6 linked regions of the Homo sapiens genome follow. The protein of the gene in region 3 purifies or fractionates together with the protein of the main gene of each other region. This does not show direct contact. Each region holds a gene or a part of one and is shown on either strand. Other genes may lie near its edges.

Region 1 (3,500 bases), on a different chromosome or scaffold from region 3:
TGTGCCTGTAATCCCAGCTTCTCAGGAGGCCGAGGTGGGAGAATTGCTTGAACCTGGGAGGCGGAGATTGCAGTGAGAGGAGATCGTGCCACTGCACTCCAGCCTGGGTGACAGTGACTCTGTCTCAAAAAAAAAGCATCAGATCTCAGTGAGGTGCAGTGGCTCACGCCTATAATCCTAGCACTTTGGGAGGCCAGGGCAGGTGGATCACTTGAGGTCAGGAGTTCGAGACCAGCCTGGCCAACATGGAGAAACCCTGTCTCTACTAAAACTACAAAAATTAGCCAGGCATGGTGGCAGGCACCAGTAATCCCAGCAACTCAGGAGGCTGAGCCAGGAGAATCGCTTGAACCCAGGAGACAGAGGCTGCAGTGAACTGAGATCACACCACTGCACTCCAGCCTGGGCGACAGAGCAAGACTCCACCTCAAAAAAACAAAAACAAAAAAACCATCAGATCTGTATAAATCTTACTCAAACCATTAATGCAAGCCAAACACCTGAGTGGGCTTACAAAAAACTAGAGTATCAGAAAACTAAAGAATTCGCTTGACTTCCATTATAAAACAGAACCACATAGACAAAGCTGTAAGAAATAACTCTCATTGACTAAAGACGAATCTTTGAGTAAATGAAAGCAGTAACTGTTTTTAACAAGCAAAGCCGCTCAATGTATCTACACTGGAAGAGGACAAACAAGGCTTTGGGGGCCCTAGAGAATGCAAGGGGACTCCACACACTGGAATGCTACCAGGGGTGGACTCTGGATGCCTGAATTATGAGTGATTTTGTTTCTGATTGTTGTATGTATCTGACTGTACTTGGCATATTTTCTACAATAACCATTGCTTTTTATCATCAGAAAAATTAAAAGTACAAAAAGAATTGCATATTGAGAAAAGATTTTTACACAAATTTTTATATAATTATGTATTTCTTTCCACTTAAAACATAAAACCATTACCTAAATGAATGGATTTTCAAAACAAGAAAGAAAAACCCTATTGTAAGTACTATTGACACCCTGCACATAGTAGGTACTCAATATATATCTCTTGTTATATTGGTTAGCTATAGATCACTATCAGATGAGCTTGAATCTTACTCATGAACACTCCATATATGCACACTAGAGATACCTTGTGATTCCCCAATTCTCAGACCCATACTGTTAGTCAATATACAGCCATTTTTATACTTAACTATCAGCATTCTATATGTCCATTTATGACACTCTGGCAATTACATTAAAATTTCCTCACCAATCTAGGAAGAACTCTTATCTACCATACAAACTATAATATCAGTGTTATTTCCACTATGCCAAAAAATAAAGTGTTTTTATCACAGTGATTTATCTTGCAGATGTGTTATTTATATACACACATCTATTATACATCAAAAATTGGAGAGTAGAAAAGAACAAAAATTACACACATAAAATAAAAAAGGGGGTGAGATGATGTACTAGGAACAGGAGAAAACTAAACTTCCAGCTTCAGTTCCATTTAGAAGTACTGACAAGATAAAGAGCATAGCTTAAGCAGTTTCTGAACAGCTGCACAAGTCCCAAAATGATATATGATTTTTTGCATTACAAGCTTCACTGCTAACTTGAAGCTATTTTGATAAATAGTTGAACAGGTGTAACTAAATTTGACATGTTATGAAAATATACAGGACCAAGATGAACAATTGTAAAGTAACCTAAATTTAGAAATCACTCTAAATGAACAATAAGATTATAACTGTGAAAAAGTTATTTTTTTTAGACAGAGTCTTGCTCTGTCACCCAGGCTGAAGCATAGTAGTATGATCTTGGCTCATTGCAACCTCCACCTCCCAGGTTCAAGCGATTGTTCTGCCTCAGCCTCCCAAGTAGCTGGGATTACAGGCGTGCAACAACATGCCCGGCTAATTTTTGTATTTTTAGTACCGACGGGGTTTCACCATGTTAGCCAGACTGGTCTCAAACTCCTGGCCTCAAGTGATCTGCCCACCTCGGCCTCCCAAAGTGCTGGGATTACAGGCGTAAGCCACCACACCCAGCCCAAAAAGTTATTTTTAATAGAATCTTTCAACATTAATCTTTTCTAAAGTATACTTTGGTCAAGACACAAAGTGTAGCATTTGTGACATTCGGCAAGCATTTAGAGAATTAAGATAATTGGTACCAATTTCAAGTTAAATGCCCTTCATTATACCTCTCACGAAAATAAGCTAAGTGTGAAACAAAAAACAAAAAGCCATGCACTAACATATCTGCAACATCTATGAGATAAGAGCAAGCAACAAATTTTTAAAATACTAAAATTTTTAAAAATATTGCTAGGAATTTTTTTTTAATTCTAGAAATTAGATTTCCTTTCCATAAACCACCTACAATCTGGAAAGTATGCTTCTTCCTAATGGTCTTTTTTCTATATGAGCCTGTGAACATCTCCCCAACATACACACTGCTACAAAGAACCACAACTCAAATTGCTGAAACACTGGGTCAACCTCTTTTCAGCTTTCCATGTCCTTAATGTTTCAAGGCAGCTCACTAGAAATCAAATGGGTTCAAATCACATTCTTGGAGTTTCAACAAGATTGGTGATTTATTGTTTACTTAAACATATCACGTGTGAGAGTTTGGTTGTGTGTCTTCCATACTCACCTTCCAACTCAATGGAGTCAGCAATGGAGAAAGTGCCATGTACCACATAATGGCCAGGACAAACAATAACAGTGTCACCTTCGAAGCAGGCATTTATAGCAGACAATGGATCACTATGGAACTAGAAAACAATAAGAACACATTTGTAAATATACACTCCCAAAAAAGTAATTTGAGTATTACTCTAGGTGACTTCATGTCTTACTTTGAAAATGGAAGCCAAAAACTGCATATTGAAGCATCTCCTTTGATAGCGCACTGACCTAACACATGCCTGGTAAGTGACTACTGCTGATGAAAGGCAGGGCTCTCACTACTTCCCATGCACAGAAAACCGTCTTGGGAAAGCTCCTGTAAATACTTTGTGGGATTTGTGAAAACCTGTGGTGAATCAGAAGGAAAAAAAGCCACCTGGAGTGAGAAACTCTCCGTTTACCTGAATTTCTCTTTCTTCCTCACCAGGCTCCTGGCAAAGCCTGTCCGTAAGCAGGGACCGCAGGAGACCAGCCATCATGGTGGAGGAGACCACATGAGTGATCTTCTGACCGCTGGAACGGACACCCTTTGCTTGGATGTTAGAATTCTTCTGATAACCAAACACATACCTTAAAGAAACGAAACAGGCCTATCAGTAAGACAGCAAGTAAGAAAAGATGCTGACTAACTAAGAATTACAAAGACACACATACCTCAACAAAGGATTCTCAATGAGTTTCAGCTTTTGTTTCAACTGTTCCATCTCCGAATACAATTTTAACCCTTCCACCATGGAGATATTTTCCTGCTCGGAATCAGAGTTACAATTTGACAAACTGCTTCTCAGATTTAAAAATTTCCTGTA
Region 2 (3,500 bases), on a different chromosome or scaffold from region 3:
CTGTTTTCACTGTTTCCTGAGCTATGGCTTGTTCATTCTTCTATATGAACTTGAATATCAACTTGTCTAGCTCCTTAAAAACAGTATTGATATTTTTACTGAGATTGTGACAATGTATAAATTAACTATATCTTTGTGTTGTTGTCTTATCCAAGAACAAGGGATGACTTCTTGTTCCAATGTACTTTTGGGTCTTGCAGGAGGGTTTTAAATTTTTCTTCATCTACATTTTGCATGTGACTTAAGTTTATTCCTAAGTGTTTGATCATCTTTGTCGCTATTGTAAATGGGGTTTTCCCTATCATTATATCCTTTTTTTCCCCCCAACTCTCAGGGTATTAATTATTCAGTGCTATTTATTTTTTATTTCAGTAGGTTTTTGGAGAACAGGTGGTGGTTGGATACGTGAATAAGTCCTTTAGTGGTGTCATTATATCGTTTCACTGCATATTGTCAGTGCATTTGAAGGCAGTGGATTTCTGCAAACTTTTGTTTTTTTTTTGATACGGGAGTTTCGCTCTTGTTGCTCAGGCTGGAGTGCAATGAAGCGATCTTGCCTCACCGCAACCTCTTCCTCCCAGGTTCAAGCAATTTTGCCTCAGCCTCCCAGGTAGCTGGGATTACAGGCGTGCACCACCATGCCCGGCTAATTTTTTGTATTTTCAGTAGAGATGGGGTTTCTCCATGTTGGTCAGGCTGGTCTAGAACTCGCAACCTCAGGTGATCCACCCATCTCAGCCTCCCAAAGTGCTGGGATTACAGGTGTGAGCCACTGCACTCAGCCCTGCAAACTAATTTTATATTCTGCTACCTTACAGAATTCTTACATTGTTCAGGTTAGTTTTGTTATTGATTCTTTAGGGCTTTACAGGTGTACTAACATATAATCTTTAAGTATCGATGGATACACTGCTTCCTGCTGATTCTCATGACTCTGACTTTGTTGAATTGCACCGTTCTTTTGTTTAGTTGCTAACACCTCTAGCTCATTGTTCAACATAGTGGAGATAGTGAGCCTCCTTACCTTGGTCCTGATCTTAGTGGAAATGCCACGTTACATGAGAGGCTGACTGTAAAAGGGAAGGCATATGTTATTTTAGCTTATTAACAAAGTATTCCTCAGTTCTTCTATTCCTGAGTGGTGTTTTACAGGAGTAACTATTGAATTGTGTTCCCATATCTTTGGAGACGATGGTGAATTTTCATATGGTAGATTGTCTTCATGAACCTCCTAATAATGAATCAACCTTACATTCTTGGCATAAATCCCACATGTTGTACTATTTTAATGTGTTTTTGAATTCTGTTTATTAATATTTAGTATTTTTCTATGGATATTCAGTCATAAGTGATACTGGTCTATAGTTTTCTTTCTTCTTTTTTTTTGTTTTTGAAATGGAGTCTTGCTCTGTTGCCCAGGCTGGACTGGAGTGGCGAGATCTCAGCTCACTGCAACCTCCGCAACCTCCGCCTCCTGAGTTCAAGCAATTCTTCTGCCTCAGCCTCCCGAGTAGCTGGGATCACAGGCGTGCACCACTACACCCAGCTAATTTTTGTATTTTTAGTAGAGACGGGGTTTCACCATGTTGGCCAGGCTGGTCTCGAACTCCTGATCTCCAGTGATCCGCCTGCCTCAGCCTCCCAAAGTGCTGGGATTACAGGCGTGAGCCACCGCTCCCGGCGTGGTCTATACTTTTCTATTTTTGTTCTGTCTATCAGGTATGGGTATCAGTGTTTACTTCATAAAAATAATTTGGAAGTTTTCCTTCCTTTTTTGTGTTCTAGGACAATACACGTAGCATTAGTGCTACCTGGTCTTAGAAGTTTTGATAGAATCCTCCCATGAAACCATCTGGTCTCTTTCTGTGAGGTGGTTCCTCGATAACAGTTTTTCTATTTCTTCTATAGAGATTGGCCTCCTCATACTTTCTTTTCTTATGGGGTCAGTTTTGGTAAATTATATTTTCCTGAGAGATCACTTCATCTAGGATTTCAGACTTATCTGCAGAGGTCTACAAGATAATATTTTCTCCCTTTTTTTTTTTTTTTTTTTGAGACAGAGTTTCACTCTTGTTCCCCAGGCTGGAGTGCAGTGGCTCGATCTTGACTCACCGCAACCTCTGCCTCCCGGGTTCAAGTGATTCTCCTGCCTCAGCGTCCCAAGTAGATGGGATTACAGGCATGCGCTACCATGCCTGGATAATTTTATGTTTTTAGTAGAGACAGGGTTTCTCCATGTTGGCCGGGCTGGTCTCAAACTCCCGACCTCAGGTGGTCTGCCCACCTGGGCCTCCCAAAGTACTGGGATTATAGGTGTGAGCCACCGCACCCGGCCAATTTTTTTCTCCTTTTAAAATATTCTGTTTCAGGGCCAGGCGCGGTGGCTTATGCCTATAATCTCAGCACTTTGGAAGGCCGAGTTGGGCGGATCACCTGAGGTCGGGAGTTCGAGACCAGCCTGATCAGTATGGAGAAACCCCATCTCTACTAAAAATATAAAATTAGCTGGGCGTAGTGGTGCATGCCTGTAATCCCAGCTACTCGGGAGGCTGAGGTGGGAGAATCCCTTGAACCCGGGAGGCAGAGGTTGAGGTGAGCCGAGATCGTGCCATTGCAGTCCAGCCTAGGCAACAAGAGCGAAACTCTGTCTCAAAAAAAAAAAAAAAAAAAAAATTCTGTTTCAGGCTGGGTGCAGTGGCTCATGCCTGTAATCTCAGCACTTTGGGAGGCTGAGGCGTGTGGATCACTTGAGGTCAGGAGTTCAAGACCAGCCTGGCCAACATGGTGAAACCCCGTCTCCACTAAAAATACAAAAATAAGCCAATGTGGTGGTGTGCGCCAGCTACTCTGGAGGCTGAGGCAGGAGAATCACTTGAACCCGGGAGGGGGAGATTGCAGTAAGCCAAAATCACGCCACTGCACTCCAGCTTGGCGACAGAGCGAGACTCCATCTCAAAGAAAAGTAAATAGATAAAATAAAACAAAATAAAATACTCTGTTTCAGTGGTTATTTTCTCCTGTTATTATCTTTTTTTGGCATGGAAAATATTGATTTATTTTTTGTGACAGGGTCTTGCTTTGTCACCCAGGCTGGAGTCCAGTGACCCAATCTCGACTCAATGCAACCTCCGCCTCCCAGGCTCAAAACGATCCTTCTACCTCAGCTCTACGAGTAGCTAGGACTGTAGGTGCACCCTACCACGCCCAGCTTACGTTTGTATTTTTTGTAGAGAGGTGGTTTTGCCATGTTGACCAGGCTGGTCTCAAGAGTCCTGAGCTCAAGCAATCCACCCGCCTCAGCCTCCCAAAGTGCTGGGACTACAGGCATGAGCTACTGCACCTGACCTGGAAAATATTTATCTCATTTTTAATTGACACAAAATAACTACATATTTATGGGGTACAGTGTGTGATGTTTTGATACATGTATACACTGTGTAATGATCAAATTAAGGTGATTAGCTTATCCATCACCTCAAACATTTATCATTTCGAGGTGA
Region 3 (3,500 bases):
GTATGTGTCACAAATAGTTCCACCTACCTGCTGGCCTACAAGACATGCTACTCTCCTCTCTCCGGGAATTTTTTTGTTTTTTTTTGAGATGGAGTCTGGCTCTGTCGCCAGGCTGGAGTGCAGTGACGCAATCTCGGCTCACTGCAACCTCCGACTCCCTGGTTAAAGTGATTCTCTGGCCTCAGCCTCCCGAGTAGCAGGGATTACAGGCACGCACCATCACACCCAGCTCATTTTTGTATTTTTAGTAGAGACAGGGTTTCGCCATGTTGGCCAGGATGGTCTCGATCTCCTGACCTCGTGATCCGCCTGCCTCAGCCTCCCACAGTACTGGGATTACAGGCGTGAGCCACCACAGCCGGCCTCTGGGATTTATAAGTAATAAACTCCTTCTGTTATTTCCTGTGTTTGTTGAATTGTCTCCTCCGAGTCTCACCTAATTGCCTAACTGACACACCTGACTACTATTTGAACCTAACTACTATCATAATCGGGGCTCTCTTGGTAGGAACAGAGTGGTAGTGTTTATTAGCCACTAATAGATACCGGATTAGTGGCTACTCTAGTCTAGGATTAAACTGACAATGGTCAGACAAGATCTACAAGGTGCCTGCTTGTACAGAGCAAGTATAAACAAGTGTGCTGTGAGAGGGACACCTGGTCATGGGTATAACATCTAGGCATCAGGCCCTCCAACAGAATGAAGAAATATCCCTTGAAAGGCACATTTTAAATATCCTCCAAGAAATCCCCCAGAGCCACACCAGGACAGGGATAAAGTTTTAGCCAGTCTCCAGCTATAAACAAGATCAAATCAGAAAAACACAAACCTCTTAAAAACAAAAGCAGCCAGGCACAGTGGCTCACGTCTGTAATCCCAGCATGTTGGGAGGCCAAGGCAAGTAGATCACTTGAGGTCAGGAACCCTGTCTCTACTAAAACTACAAAAATTAGCCGGGCATGGTGGCTCACACCTGCGATCCCAGCTACTCGGAAGGCTGAAGCACTGGAAACACCTGACGCCAGGAGGCGAAGGCTGCAATGAGCCAACATCATGCCACTGCACTCCAGCCTGGGTGGCAGAGCGAGACTCTGTCTCCAAAAAAAAAAAAAAAAAGAGAGAGAGAGAAAATAAAAAATTTTAAAATTTTAAAAAGTAGCAAACTTTCATAAGTTACAATTTTTTTTCCAACTTGACAGTAGGGAGAGTGTTCTTTATTTAACCTGGGAGCACAGATTCAAGTTGCCCTAAATATACACTCTCTAGAATGTTCTCTTACAAGAAAATTAAGTAGGCCTGAAAGGAAGAGCCAAAGTCAACTCAATTAAAATCAAGAAGAGTACCCTTCCCCACCCTTGATGATGGTGCATGCAGAAGGCGGCCAAAAAAGCCAACAAACAAAAAAATTTAAGAGTCCATCAAAATGTAGAATGGAGTGAAAAGATAAATCACTCCCTGGAACAAAATATTAGCAATCCCTATAAATGAAAAAGAATTAGCCTACAGAGTAAGTTAAAAAAAGAAAAAAGGGAAGAAATGAAGCAATAAATATACAAATGACTTTAATGTGACAAGATGACTGAAAACTATTTTACAGAAGATGAAAGGCCACACAGAAAAAATGCTCAATCCTAGTGTAAAAAGCAACATGTAATCACACAGAGAAAAATAAAGAGAACTACTTATAAGGAGTAAATACACATGCATACATGGTCAGATGGTTAATCCATATATTCCATTGGCATTCCCAAGTCAATCTATCTATAAGCTACATCCCAGGGATTTTTTTTTCCAATGTATAAAAAACTTACAAAGCAGCCAGGTGCGGTGGCACACACCTGTAATCCCAGCACTTTGGGAGGCCGAGGCAGGCAGATCACGAGGTCAAGAGATCAAGACCATCCTGGCCAACATGGTGAAACCCCATCTCTACTAAAAATAAAAAAAATTAGCTGGGTGGGGCCTGGCGCAGTGGCTCATGCCTGTAATCCCAGCACTTTGGGAGGCCAAGGTAAGCAGATCACCTGAGGTCAGGAGTTCAAGACCAGCCTGACCAACATGGAGAAACCCTGTCTCTATTAAAAAAACAAAATTAGCCGGGCGTGGTGGTGCATGCCTATAATCCCAGCTACTCTGGAGGCTGAGGCAGGAGAATCACTTGAACCTGGGAAGCAGAGGTTGCAGTGAGCTGAGATTTTGCCATTGCACTCCAGACTGGGCAACAAGAGTGAAACTCCGTCTCAAAAAAAAAAAAAAAATTAGCTGGGTGTGGTGGCATGTGACTGTAATCCCAGCTACTTGGGAGGCTGAGGCAAGAGAATCACTTGAACCCAGGAGGCAGAGGTTGCAGTGAGCTGAGATCGCGCCACTGCACTCCAGCCTGGCCTGGCGACAGAGCGAGACTCCGTCTCGAAAAAAAAAAAAAAATTTATGAAGCATGGCTGGGCACAGTGGCTCATGCCTATAATCCCAGTGCTGAGCCCAAGGGTTTGAGTGCTGGGCAACATGGCAAGACCCCATCTCTATAAAAAAATACAACCATTAATCAGGCATGTGGCACACGCCTGTAGTCCCAGCTACTTGGGAGGGTGAGATGGAAGGATTGCTTGAGCCTGGGAGGCCAAGGTTGCAGTGAGCTGTGATTGCACCACTGCACTTCAGTCTGGGCAACAGAAGAAGACCTGCCTCAAAAAAAAAAAAAGAAGTTTATGAAGCATTAGCACTTGGAGACAAAAACAACAATTACATTGGCAACAGATAAAATACTAACAACTCAAATCAAGCAGTGGAATGGTTAGTAACCTGGGTGACCCACAGCCTCAGACAGCAGCATGTGTGCAACGGACTGAGGCAAAGAAACCACAAAAGGCCGGGCGCGGTGGCTCACGCCTGTAATCCCAGCACTTTGGGAGGCCAAGGTGGGTGAATCACAAGGTCAGGAGATTGAGACCACCCTGGCTAACACAGCGAAACCCCGTCTCTACTAAAAATACAAAAAAATGGCCGGGCGTGGTGGCTCACGCCTGTAATCCCAGCACTTTGGGAGGCCAAGGTGGGCAGATCACGAGGTCAGGAGATCGAGACCACCCTGGCTAACACAGTGAAACCCCGTCTCTACTAAAAATACAAAAAATTAGCCGGACGTGGTGGCAGGCGCCTGTAGTCCCAGCTACTTGGGAGGCTGAGGCAGGAGAATGGCGTCAACCCGGGAGGCAGAGCTTGCAGTGAGCCGAGATTACGCCACTGCACTCCAGCCTGGGGGACAGAGAGAGACTCTGTCTCAAAAAAAATAAAAATAAAAATAAAAATACAAAAAAATTAGCCGGGTGTGGTGGCGGGCGCCTGTAAGTCCCAGCTACTCGGTAGGCTGAGGCAGGAGAATCGCATGAACCCGGGAGGCTGGGCTTGCAGTGAGCCAAGATCGCTCCATTGCACTCTAGCCTGGGCAACAGAGCGAGAGTCCGTCTCAAAAAAAAAAAAAAAAATTCAGAATCAGTAC
Region 4 (3,500 bases), on a different chromosome or scaffold from region 3:
TGCAACCTCTACCTACTGGGTTCAAGCGATTCTCCTGCCTCAGCCTCTTAAGTAGCTGGGATTACAGGCATGAGCCAACATGCTCAGCTAATTTTTCTATTTTTAGTAGAGATGGGGTATTGCCATGTTGTCCAGGCTGGTCTTGAACTCCTGACCTCAGGTGATCTGCCTTCCTCAGGCTCCCAAAGTGCTGGGATTATAGGCGTGAGCCACCATGCCTGGCCAACAGTGCAATTTAAAAAGGAACCTGGCCTCTGCCTTTTGTTTTCAGTTCTTAAATCTTGGTGCAAAATTCATACAAAGAAACTGATTAAGAAGTTAATGGTGTCTTAAAAATGCAAACCGAAGACAAATGCCTTCTCTTTAAAAATGGAGTTCCAATAGTGATATGTGATCAGCAACCTTATCATAGAACCCTAAACTGCTCTGTACCATGGCATCACCACCTCTTGACCTGTTAGTCTGTGGTTTCAGCTTTCCAGAGGTGACCTAGTGATTAGGCCTTTAAAACTTTAGTGCTTGGAGTTTCAGGCATGATGAGAACCTTTGAAAGTAAGAACTCAAACTCATTGTTCTCAGCATCATTAGGGAAAACTGTAAGTTTTGACGCTAATGCTAATAGGATCAAATTCACAGAGAAAGCAACAATAACACAAAAGTTATGTCTTTAAATCAGGTACACAATAGGGACATATGGAAAACTGTGGTATTGGGAGTTTTTGTGGAAAGTCTAATAAGCCAGTTACTGGGTAATCTCAGGAGATGAATGTGCCACTGTGTTTCCTGGATAGGATATTCAAAGCCTTCCAGAATCTGTCCCCAATCTGTCCTCTCAATTCTGTCTCTTCCCTGCTCCCCACGATTACCAGACAGAGCCAGGAAGCCATTATTTCTGTATTCTCACTCTCCTACAATCCTCCTCCCCTCTCCCAATCTCTCCAGTCTTTTCTCAAGTCAACCTTTTCAGCAATTAATTTCATTGTGCCTGATATTATGATTCCATACTTTCAGGCTAATATCCCTTATGTCCTCATCTGCACTGTCATGCTCTTGACAAGCAGGGCTCTCATCTTCACATTTCTGTGGGTATTTCCCCAAGCTCAGAGCTGGGCACACAGCAGATGGTTCAATAAAGAACAGCTGAATGCAAGCCACAATGAGAGAAATTGGCCTTGATCATCCAGAGACTATAGCTCCACAAACACACGAAATAGTAGAAAATGTTTTTGCCTACCTTAGTTTTACAGTGAACTGAATTAGGGTTTTAAGTACCAACGGCCTCTGAGGGTGGGTTGGCATACATGGCTGTCGCTCAACCACAAATGAGCTAGATGAAAAGGAAATAAAGCGCATCATTTGAAAACACTGAAAATATTGAGACTGAAAACCACAGAGGAACAGGATGCTATCCACTCAAAGTCCAAATTTTCTACACTTAGAAGATATTCAAACCCCCAATTAAACTCAAATCTTTACAATGACTTTTTATAAATCATTTCACAGCAGTAAATGATTCTTAATTGTTATAATTGAGTCATGAATAAAAGCCCCAGTCCATTTAGTAATTTTTTTTTCTTTTGAGAAGGGTCTCCCTCTGTTGCCCAGGCTGAAGTGCAGTGGCACGATCATAGCTCACTGCAGTCTCAACCTCCTGAGCTCAAGTGATCCTCCTGCCTTGGCCTCCTGAGTATCTAGGACTATAGGGATGTGCCACCATGCCTGGATACATTTTTTATTTTTCTGTAGAGATGGGGGTCTTTTTATGCTGTCCAGGCTGTTCTACAACTCCTGAGCTCAAGCAACCCCTTGCCTCAGCCTCCCAAGGTGCTGAGATTACAGGTGTGAGCCACCATACCTGGCCAAAAATAAATTTCATGACTTTTTTTGGACTAAATATTAGGATTTCTGGTACATATTAGTATTTTTTCTTTAGCTTATAAACATGAAAATGTTCTCCATCCTTCATTTCATGGATATGCACATAAGAAAAAACCCTTGAAATTTTTTCTAAGATGTGAAAACTGAGCTGTAGGTGAATGACATGACTTAGCTTGTGGAAAACTGAGCCAGTTGGTGAGAGAAGTGTTGATGAATAAATAGTGAAGAGTAGAAATGTGGTTTCTAAAACTTTCTGGGGTTCTATTCACTTCTCCCTGAGGCTCGTTGTTGAATACTTCCCTGCCACTCTTCCACCTAAACACCAAAACCTTAGGAAGGGTGTTCTTACTTCACAGAATGGAGGATGCCATTGATAGCACTTCACTTACTTCTTGAAAAGGTTGTAGATCAAGAAGGTGACTCTTTCTAGCATGTGAGTTCTTTGCATTGGAATGGGATCACCTTCATATGTCATTTTGGTAGATTGCTCCTCTAGTTTCTCCAATTGCCTTCTCAGTTGGAAAAGACTTTCTGCCAATAGTGTAAAGCTATTGAACAGAAAATGAAAATCAAAGATAGTTTTTCCACTTAATAATAAAAAAGCATTGTAACAATGGGTCATAGTTAATAAACATTAAATTATTAAGTAATTATTAAATTAATTAAATGAATCACTTAATTTGATTTAGGTTAGAGACAGTTTTTATTTTTATTTTCCTAACCCATTTTTTTCTTGAATATGCATATGTTAAATGTTTTCAATGTTTTCTTATTTAAACCTTCAATTATATATGTCATCATTTATGAAATTTTATCAACATTTGGAACTAAATCCCTTTTAATCATTCTTTGTTTAAGCTTATTAAGCATCTATATGTTAAAAATGTGGCGCTCACTAAAGGGCAAAAAAAGAGCAAATTTAAAGCCATAAAAAAATGCCATGATTAATGTTTTCTTATGTAAGCATACTGAAAGAAAAACATATGTAACCGATCTTCCCACACAATATATATTTTTACAAGTCCTAAGTACTAGCCAAAAGTGATCAATGACTCTCTTTAGAGTAAGGTATATTTAGAAATGCTTGCCTCTGATAACTGCTTGGAATTTTATTCACTATGTGGTGATCTCACCTCAGAAACGGAGGTGGCAGTGTGGGCCAGAAGCCTAGGAAAGAGTAAGATTGAAATGGACACGGAAGGGACTTCCAACCACAGGAGACAGAACATCTTATCAGACTTGGAAAGTCCACCTCGCCATACAGTAACTCTTTCTACTTTAAGTATTCCACATATAAGACTATGGCAAGAGTGGTTGAATCCCTGCTGATTTGGGGTATGAGCTCCATTATAGGTTAAGATCTTTATTGCTCCCTTTATTATTGTTTTCACAACAGAGTACAGTGAGTTGTAAAATCAAAGTGTCTTCCCAAGGAAAATCAATGTTTTAAAATGAGTCAAACTCCTTACATTTCTTGACAAGTAGGCCTGGCAGGGCAGAGCTTTTAGTGAGGGGGTCCCCAGTTACTACATATTCCATTGTTTTGACTTGTTCTCTTAAGAATCAATTTTAGATTTTAACTGAACAGTTTCTTTCTTTTTCATATTTTCCAATTGTTCCTT
Region 5 (3,500 bases), on a different chromosome or scaffold from region 3:
TCGCCCAGGCTGGAGTGCAGTGGCGCAATCTCGGCTCACTGCAAGCTCCGCCTCCCGGGTTCACGCCATTCTGCCTCAGCCTCCAGAGTAGCTGGGACTACAGGCGCCCGCCACCACGCCTGGCTAATTTTTTGTATTTTTAGTAGAGACAAGATTTCACCGTGTTAGCCAGGATGGTCTCGATCTCCTGACCTTGTGATCCAGCCACCTTGGCCTCCCAAAGTGCTGGGATTACAGGCGTGAGCCACCGCGCCCGGCCCCAATCCCATATGTTTTTTACCCATTTAAGGTATTTACTTTTATTTATTCTTGTACATGGCAATTCTGAGATTGCTATCCTTCGACAGGCCTGCCTGCAAGGTTAGCCCTTGGCTAGCATTTGGGAACTTAGATTTGGGGAGGGTCCTCACCATTCCCAGAACTGATAAAGAGTAGTTTGCCCCGCCTGTAATCCCAGCACTTTGGGAGGCCGAGGCAGGCGGATCACAAGGTCAGGATATCGAGACCATCCTGGCTAACGCGGTGAAACCCCGTCTCTACTAAAAATACAAAAAATTAGCCGGGAGTAGTGGCGGGCGCCTGTAGTACCAGCTACCCGGGAGGCTGAGGCAGGAGAATGGCGTGAACTGGAGAGGCGGAGCTTGCAGTGAGCCGAGATTGCGCCAGGGCACTCCAGCCTGGGCGACAGAGCGAGACTCCCCCAGAAAAGAGTAGTTTGCTGTGCCTGAACCATTTGTACAGGCAATATGTTTTACGCTGCACATGTGCTTTCCTTCTGGGAGTCTGGAATTTTGAAACATACTAGGCAGAGGGTGCCTCTACGGCCAGCCCTCAATAAAAACCCTGGGCACTGAGCCTGAGTTTCCCTGGTAGGGCACCATTTCACGAGCTGTGAATGAAGTGCACGGTTTGTGACTTCACTGGGCGAGAGCTCGTGAGCTTGCGCCTGGGTTCCTGTAAACTTCGTCCCATCCACTATTTCCCTTTGCTGATGTTGCTTTGTATCTTTTCAATGCAATAAACCTTAGTTATATGTAAATAATATGCTGAATCCCATGAACCTTTCTAGCAAATCACTGAACCCGGGGGTAGTCTTGGGGATCTTGACACAGTCCTCAATTAACCTCTTTCAAGGAAAAAAAAAAAAAGGAAGTAAACAAACATCTATTAAGCACCTAGTGTGAGCCAGTCACTAAGCTGGTGTATATGTTTCTCATTTAATCTTCAGAATAAATCTTCAAAGTAGATATTGCTATCCCATTACTATGACTCATTTATAAATGAGAAAACTGAAGGTCAGAAAAATTCAGTACCCTGCCCAAGGTCACAAAGCCAGGTAGAGAGTCAAGATTTAAACCCAGATAGTTGTTCTATCTGTTGTCACTGTCAAATTATAACGATTGCTTCCTTGGCCTTGTAGTTTTGGTGATAAAAGTCCATGTTCTTCCTCTCTGGATCTTTATGAGATCAAAGTGTATGCCCTCTGCCTTTCTTTTCATACAGGTTCTCATCCTGTGTCTTTCAAATGAGCAGTGATAAATTGATGATTCCTTTCCTCAAACTTAGAAAATAAAGCATCTTGAATACTATAGTATTATACTTTGTGCAAGATGCCAACAGATGCATTGAAATCTAGTTTTCAATTTTTTTTTTTTTGCTGAGGCTAATTAGAGATTTAATTTCTAATGTTATCTCTGTTTCCTTTTCAGCAAAACTCACCTAAGCACTGATCTTATAGGAAGTAATGCTGCCCCATAAGATTGAGGAGGTTTATGTGTTATGTAAATACATCTAGGCTTAATTAAAAAAAAGAGAAGATGCTAACTTATTAAAAACTCCAGCAGACTCATCCAGCAAGGCCTAGCCTTACAGATGATTATATAAGGGAATTGTGAAGGCTCAATCCTAAAACTTACTATACAAACCCACATTTTTCTGCAGTCCCACCTACTTGGGAGGCTGAGGTGGGAGATCACTCCAGCCCAGGAGGAGTCCCACATTACAGTGAGCTATGATCCCACAACTGCATCCCAGTCTGTGCAATGTGAGCAAGGCTCCAACTCAAAACAAAGCAAAAAAAAAAACTACTTTTTTTCTATATAACACAAAGATATGTTTCTGAACTTTATGGTAATGAGATATTGTGTGTATGATACTTTAAAAAGTGCTGTTAACTAATAAGTACGTAAAAAAAATAGATACACTACCAAGGTTTCAGGAAATGCAGTTTATATCTTTAAATTAAGGCTAAATTTCTAAAAGCTAAGACTATAATAAAATAAAGTTTTATTAATATTTATATTTTATAAAATTATATAATTGAGTTTAACCTTAATGAAAATTTGAGAATTTTCCAGTTCTAAAAACAGAAAAGACCACCATTTGACACTATGAGTCACTTCTATGAGATATCTTGATATGTAGTTCCTAAAGACTATTTTAGGTATATAATATTCAGGTATTCACTGTTTCAAAAAAGGCCAGAGAAAAGCTTAAAGAAGAACAAAGTTGTTACATATAGCATCCAAAAAATAGTAGTAGGCTTAAAGACAGTTTACTAATTGCCTATGATGTGTTTGATAGATACTAAGGGGCTACCAAAAAAATGAAAAAGACAGTATCAAATATAGACTACTGCCTTCTATAATCAATGATCAATTTTTTTTTTTTTTTGAGATGGAGTCTCACTCTGTTGCCCAGTCTGGAGTGCAGTGGCATGATCTCGGCTCACTGCAAGCTCTGCCTCCTGGGTTCACGCCATTCTCCTGCCTCAGCCTCCTGAGCAGCTGGGACTATAGGCACCTGCCACCACTCCCAGCTAATTTTTTTTGTATTTTTAGTAGAGACGGGGTTTCACCATGTTAGCCAGGATGGTCCCGATCTCCTGACCTTGGGATCTGCCCGCCTTGGCTTCCCAAAGTGCTGGGATTACAGGCGTGAGCCACCGTGCCCGGCCAATCAATGATCAATGTTAAATCCTCTGATTTAAATAGCTATTCAATCTGAGCTTATTCAAAATTATGGCTAGCATACCTCTTCAGGAAAATCAATCTTGTTCTAATCATAATTATAAAAATATAATTATAAACATAGCTACCACATACATACACCATGCATCAGTTACATAAATTTAATAGTCCTCACAACAACCCTCAGAGCAAGTATATTAATCGTCCACATTTTTCAGATGAGGCAACTTAAAGGTCAAAGAGGTTAGGTGACTTCTATAAGGTTACAAGTGAGTAAGTGGTGGAGACACCCTTTGACAGCCATGTTGCCTCCTCTCCAGAGCATGGAATACCAGGAAGAAAACAGGTGTTGCTTTATTTTATCATAGGGGTCTTTTCAATAGCTCTGGCCTCTTTCCTGTGACTCAAACACTGTTTACCACAATGCATCAGAGTATCTTCTGACTCTGCGCTGGTTCTGGGGGCATGTCACAGTGGAAAAGAAAGTACAATGTTCAGAAGCAAGAGTAACTGTGAAGTGAAGATATGAAA
Region 6 (3,500 bases), on a different chromosome or scaffold from region 3:
CTCCTCCAAGGTTTGTTTTGAAAAACCCTGCTGCCAGGGCAGGCTCCCGTGTTACGCTGCTCACAAAAGCACACATCTTCCCTGCCAGCCTTTGCTCAGTTATTTTATTCCCTCTCTAACAAGTACTTGTGGAGCCTTACTATGTCTTCAGCACAGTTCTAGGTTATCAGGATAAGATTGTGAACCACACACCAGGTCCTTTCATGGAGCTTATTTTCTAGCCTGGAGGAGACACACATTAAAGACAGACTGCAGCACACAGGCCGCATGCAGCCCACTGCCTGCTTTTGTAAATAAAGTTTTACTGGGACACAACCATGCAGTCCATTCATTTACTCGTTATCTATGGCTGTGTCCACACTACCATGGCAGAGGTGAGTAGTTGTGATAGAGAATGCATGGTCTGTGAAATAAAAGTATTTACACCTGGCCCTTTGCAGGAAAAATCTTCCCATGTCTGCATTAAACAAATGAGTACGCAGGAAACCAACATGCCTGTGAACAATGCTATGATGGGTGATGAGATAGAGGGTAGGTGTGCATGTGTGTGTGAGTGTATATAGTAAATGTGTGTGTGCTGGTTTTAGAATAAGTGGCCAGGAGAGGCCTCACTGAGCAGCTGACATCTCAGAGGGGACTTCCACACCAGAGGCAAGCCCCTCTGGGAGCAGAGACTGCTCCTGTCTGGTTTGCTCACGCATGTCCCCAGGCTAGCATAGGGCCGTAGGCTGGACACCTCCAGAGCACTGATGTGAAGATGTGGATGTGAGGTTGTGATGCAGATGCCCTGGAAGACTAAACACATTTACTCCTCGCGTCCACTGTAAACTACAACATGTGCTGTGTGTTCATCCTCTAATTCGCTGCCCTGCCTGGGAGGTGCTTGCTTTCTTTTTCTTGCAGCCGTTCTGACCACCCTCATAGCACTGTGTGTGTGTGTGTGTGTGTGTGTGTGTGTGTGTGTGTGTGTGTGTGTGCTGTGTGCATGTATGTGCACCTGATGCCCTCCCCAACCATTCCATGGCCCACCTTGCCACCTTGCCATCTTATTATAATATCCCGATGTCCTGAATGGACACTTTCCATCCACCATGAATGCAATAGAACCTGGAATGTAATGGCTTACGAGAATCAGCAACACAAAGGGAGAAACAGAAGTTCAGTTCCCTTTGTTCTGATAGAAACTTACTGTTTGCATCCACCAAGAAACACAACCAAAGAACAGCCATGAATATCATCCCATGAGAGAGCACATGGCTGTGTCAGACCCTGCCCTGAGCCCCCCTTCTCAGTCTGACCTTGGACTCTGCTGGAGGTCCCTGCTGGACGTGGACACAGGGCCAGGGAATGGTAGGGTCCTCAGTTGCATTGCATCCTTGTCGTTGTACAGATGGGGAAACTGAGGCTAACAAAGAGAAGAAGTCTCTCCTACTGACCCATGGCTAGGAAACAGCAGGGCTAGAAGTGAGTCCCAGGTAAACTGAGGCTGGGATACTCCAGCTGCACACTCACACAGCTACCATGTAAGCTGGTGGTTGGGGCCTGGGCCTGGCAGTCAGGCCACTCCACCTACTCGCTCATGCAAGTCACCTTCCATCTCTGTCTTCTTTGGCACTGTCCTGAGCCTTAAATGAGCTCACACAGGTCAAGTTCTTAGCCAAGTATAACACAAAATCAATGAACAATATGTCTTAGACATGATTATTGCCACATCTTTCACCATAGACGGTAACTGCTTAGGCACAGACTGTGACTTGGTTGTCTTTGATTCAACACAAACCAGTGTCACCTCTGGATCAGAGCCCTCCCGCGTATGAACTGCTCTTGCTGTGTGGTGGGAAATTATCTCCCACTCATCTTCAGGTGAGTCCACTTTCACCTTCTGTGGGATAGACTGCAGACAGTCGGCTACATTTAAATTGGGCCAAAAGAAAGGCAGCAGACACACATCCCCAGTCAGGCTTTGCTTCTTCTGGGCTCTGGGTTCCCCATCTGTATGAGGAGAGCCCCCCAGCTTGGTGATGCCATGAGTCCCTGGGCGGGGCAGTGGGGAGGGTGGGGTGCCTTACCTGGCCCACTGCAGAAAGAGGCGATGATGGCCAGAATGCCCACGATACTCAGGTAGGGGACCCAGGGGGCGTGGTCCTGGGAGAGAACAGGGAGTGGTCAGGTGAGGAGGTGATGGTGTGACCGGAGGACCTGAGTTCCCACCCCAGCTCCTCCTCCATCCATCTGTGTGACCTTGGACAGGTCACTTGATGTCCCCAAGCCCCAGCTTCAGCATCTATAACATGGGAACAATGATAACCCTTCGGTCACTCCATCTGCTTATTTTATAGCCATGATGAAATCAGATGAAGCCTGTGATGAGTTTGACATAGTCCTGGCATACAGGAAGTGGTAAATAAATCAATAACTCACATTGATTGAGGGCTTAGTTGGCATCAGGCAATATGAGCAATTTTCACAGCTTTATCACATTTATAAAAGTTCATCATTCTCAGCAAACTGACACAAGAACCGAAAACCAAACCCCACATGTCTCACTCATAAGTGGGAGTTGAACAATGAGAACACATGGACACAGGGAGGGGAACATCACATGCTGGGGCCTGTTTTGGGGGGTGGGGGGCTGGAGGAGGGATAGCATTAGGAGAAACACCTAATGTAGATGATGGGTTGATGGGTGCAGCCAACCACCATGGCACATGTATACCTATGTAACAAACCTGCACGTTCTGCACATGTATCCCAGAACTTAAAGTATATATATACATATATATATATATATGTATATATATGAATGTTTCCTCATATACATTTTAAAGGCTTCTATATTTTGCTTAAAAGAAGTTATCTTAGTTCTGATATTATTACATAAAGGACCTTATTTGTACCCCTGCCATCTTGCAAGGTGTGAGATGCGTTAATTCATTTCATGGAATATGTCTGGAGAAGCTGTCACTCATCCGGGGGGTGGGTGGCTTGGTGCTGGTTGGGATTGCTCCTGCTCTAGCAGACTGGACAGCTGAGCATTAGAACACAGTGTCACCAGTTCTGAATCTGTGGGGGTGCCAGGGCTGCCCCAGGAGAGGCCACCTGACTTGAAGGGAAGGTAAGAGCCTGCGTTCATCTCTGTAGGCTGAGCCAGAGTCAGCCCAGTGGGAAAGGAAAGGAAAGAGGTTCCAGTAGGGGGTTCAGCATACACAAGGGCATAGAATCCTAAGAGGGCACCATCGGCGGGGGGGTAAGCTGCAAACAGTCTGGAGTGGAGGGCGAGGGGTACAGAGGGCAGACAGAGGAATGGGGAACTCCCTCCTTCCCCTTGTTCTATGTCCAAATCCATTAGCTTTAGGGGTTGAGAGGAGCTTCATGGACTCTTGTACACTGTATGGCTTGCTTCTGTACCAAGTCACTCACTCACTCACTAATTCAGCTGATTGATCCGAGCTGCCCCTGGGTGCCAGGCACTGGGATGGGAGGTGGAAATGCAGATATGG

Evidence for each region.
Region 1: the proteins of ZNF136 (region 3) and SHCBP1 purify together in Homo sapiens (affinity purification with mass spectrometry; one large-scale study listed by BioGRID and IntAct). This does not show direct contact.
Region 2: the proteins of ZNF136 (region 3) and ANKS3 purify together in Homo sapiens (affinity purification with mass spectrometry; one large-scale study listed by BioGRID and IntAct). This does not show direct contact.
Region 4: the proteins of ZNF136 (region 3) and STAT4 purify together in Homo sapiens (affinity purification with mass spectrometry; one large-scale study listed by BioGRID and IntAct). This does not show direct contact.
Region 5: the proteins of ZNF136 (region 3) and DHX32 purify together in Homo sapiens (affinity purification with mass spectrometry; one large-scale study listed by BioGRID and IntAct). This does not show direct contact.
Region 6: the proteins of ZNF136 (region 3) and SLC2A9 purify together in Homo sapiens (affinity purification with mass spectrometry; one large-scale study listed by BioGRID and IntAct). This does not show direct contact.

What each region holds. Positions count from the first base shown.
Region 1 is NC_000016.10:46,600,880-46,604,379, forward strand, and holds part of SHCBP1 (SHC SH2 domain-binding protein 1), read right to left. Parts: coding exon 3,349-3,500; intron 3,265-3,348; coding exon 3,096-3,264; intron 2,781-3,095; coding exon 2,660-2,780; intron 1-2,659. UniProt on the Homo sapiens protein: May play a role in signaling pathways governing cellular proliferation, cell growth and differentiation. May be a component of a novel signaling pathway downstream of Shc. Acts as a positive regulator of FGF signaling in neural progenitor cells.
Region 2 is NC_000016.10:4,710,272-4,713,771, reverse strand, and holds part of ANKS3 (ankyrin repeat and SAM domain-containing protein 3), read left to right. Parts: intron 1-3,500. UniProt on the Homo sapiens protein: May be involved in vasopressin signaling in the kidney.
Region 3 is NC_000019.10:12,169,596-12,173,095, reverse strand, and holds part of ZNF136 (zinc finger protein 136), read right to left. Parts: intron 1-3,500. UniProt on the Homo sapiens protein: May be involved in transcriptional regulation as a weak repressor when alone, or a potent one when fused with a heterologous protein containing a KRAB B-domain.
Region 4 is NC_000002.12:191,060,495-191,063,994, forward strand, and holds part of STAT4 (signal transducer and activator of transcription 4), read right to left. Parts: intron 2,427-3,500; coding exon 2,268-2,426; intron 1,328-2,267; coding exon 1,235-1,327; intron 1-1,234. UniProt on the Homo sapiens protein: Transcriptional regulator mainly expressed in hematopoietic cells that plays a critical role in cellular growth, differentiation and immune response. Plays a key role in the differentiation of T-helper 1 cells and the production of interferon-gamma.
Region 5 is NC_000010.11:125,860,793-125,864,292, forward strand, and holds part of DHX32 (putative pre-mRNA-splicing factor ATP-dependent RNA helicase DHX32), read right to left. Parts: intron 1-3,500.
Region 6 is NC_000004.12:9,885,498-9,888,997, forward strand, and holds part of SLC2A9 (solute carrier family 2, facilitated glucose transporter member 9), read right to left. Parts: intron 2,146-3,500; coding exon 2,070-2,145; intron 1,406-2,069; coding exon of another isoform or gene 1,263-1,405; exon of another isoform or gene 1-1,262. UniProt on the Homo sapiens protein: High-capacity urate transporter, which may play a role in the urate reabsorption by proximal tubules. May have a residual high-affinity, low-capacity glucose and fructose transporter activity. Transports urate at rates 45- to 60-fold faster than glucose.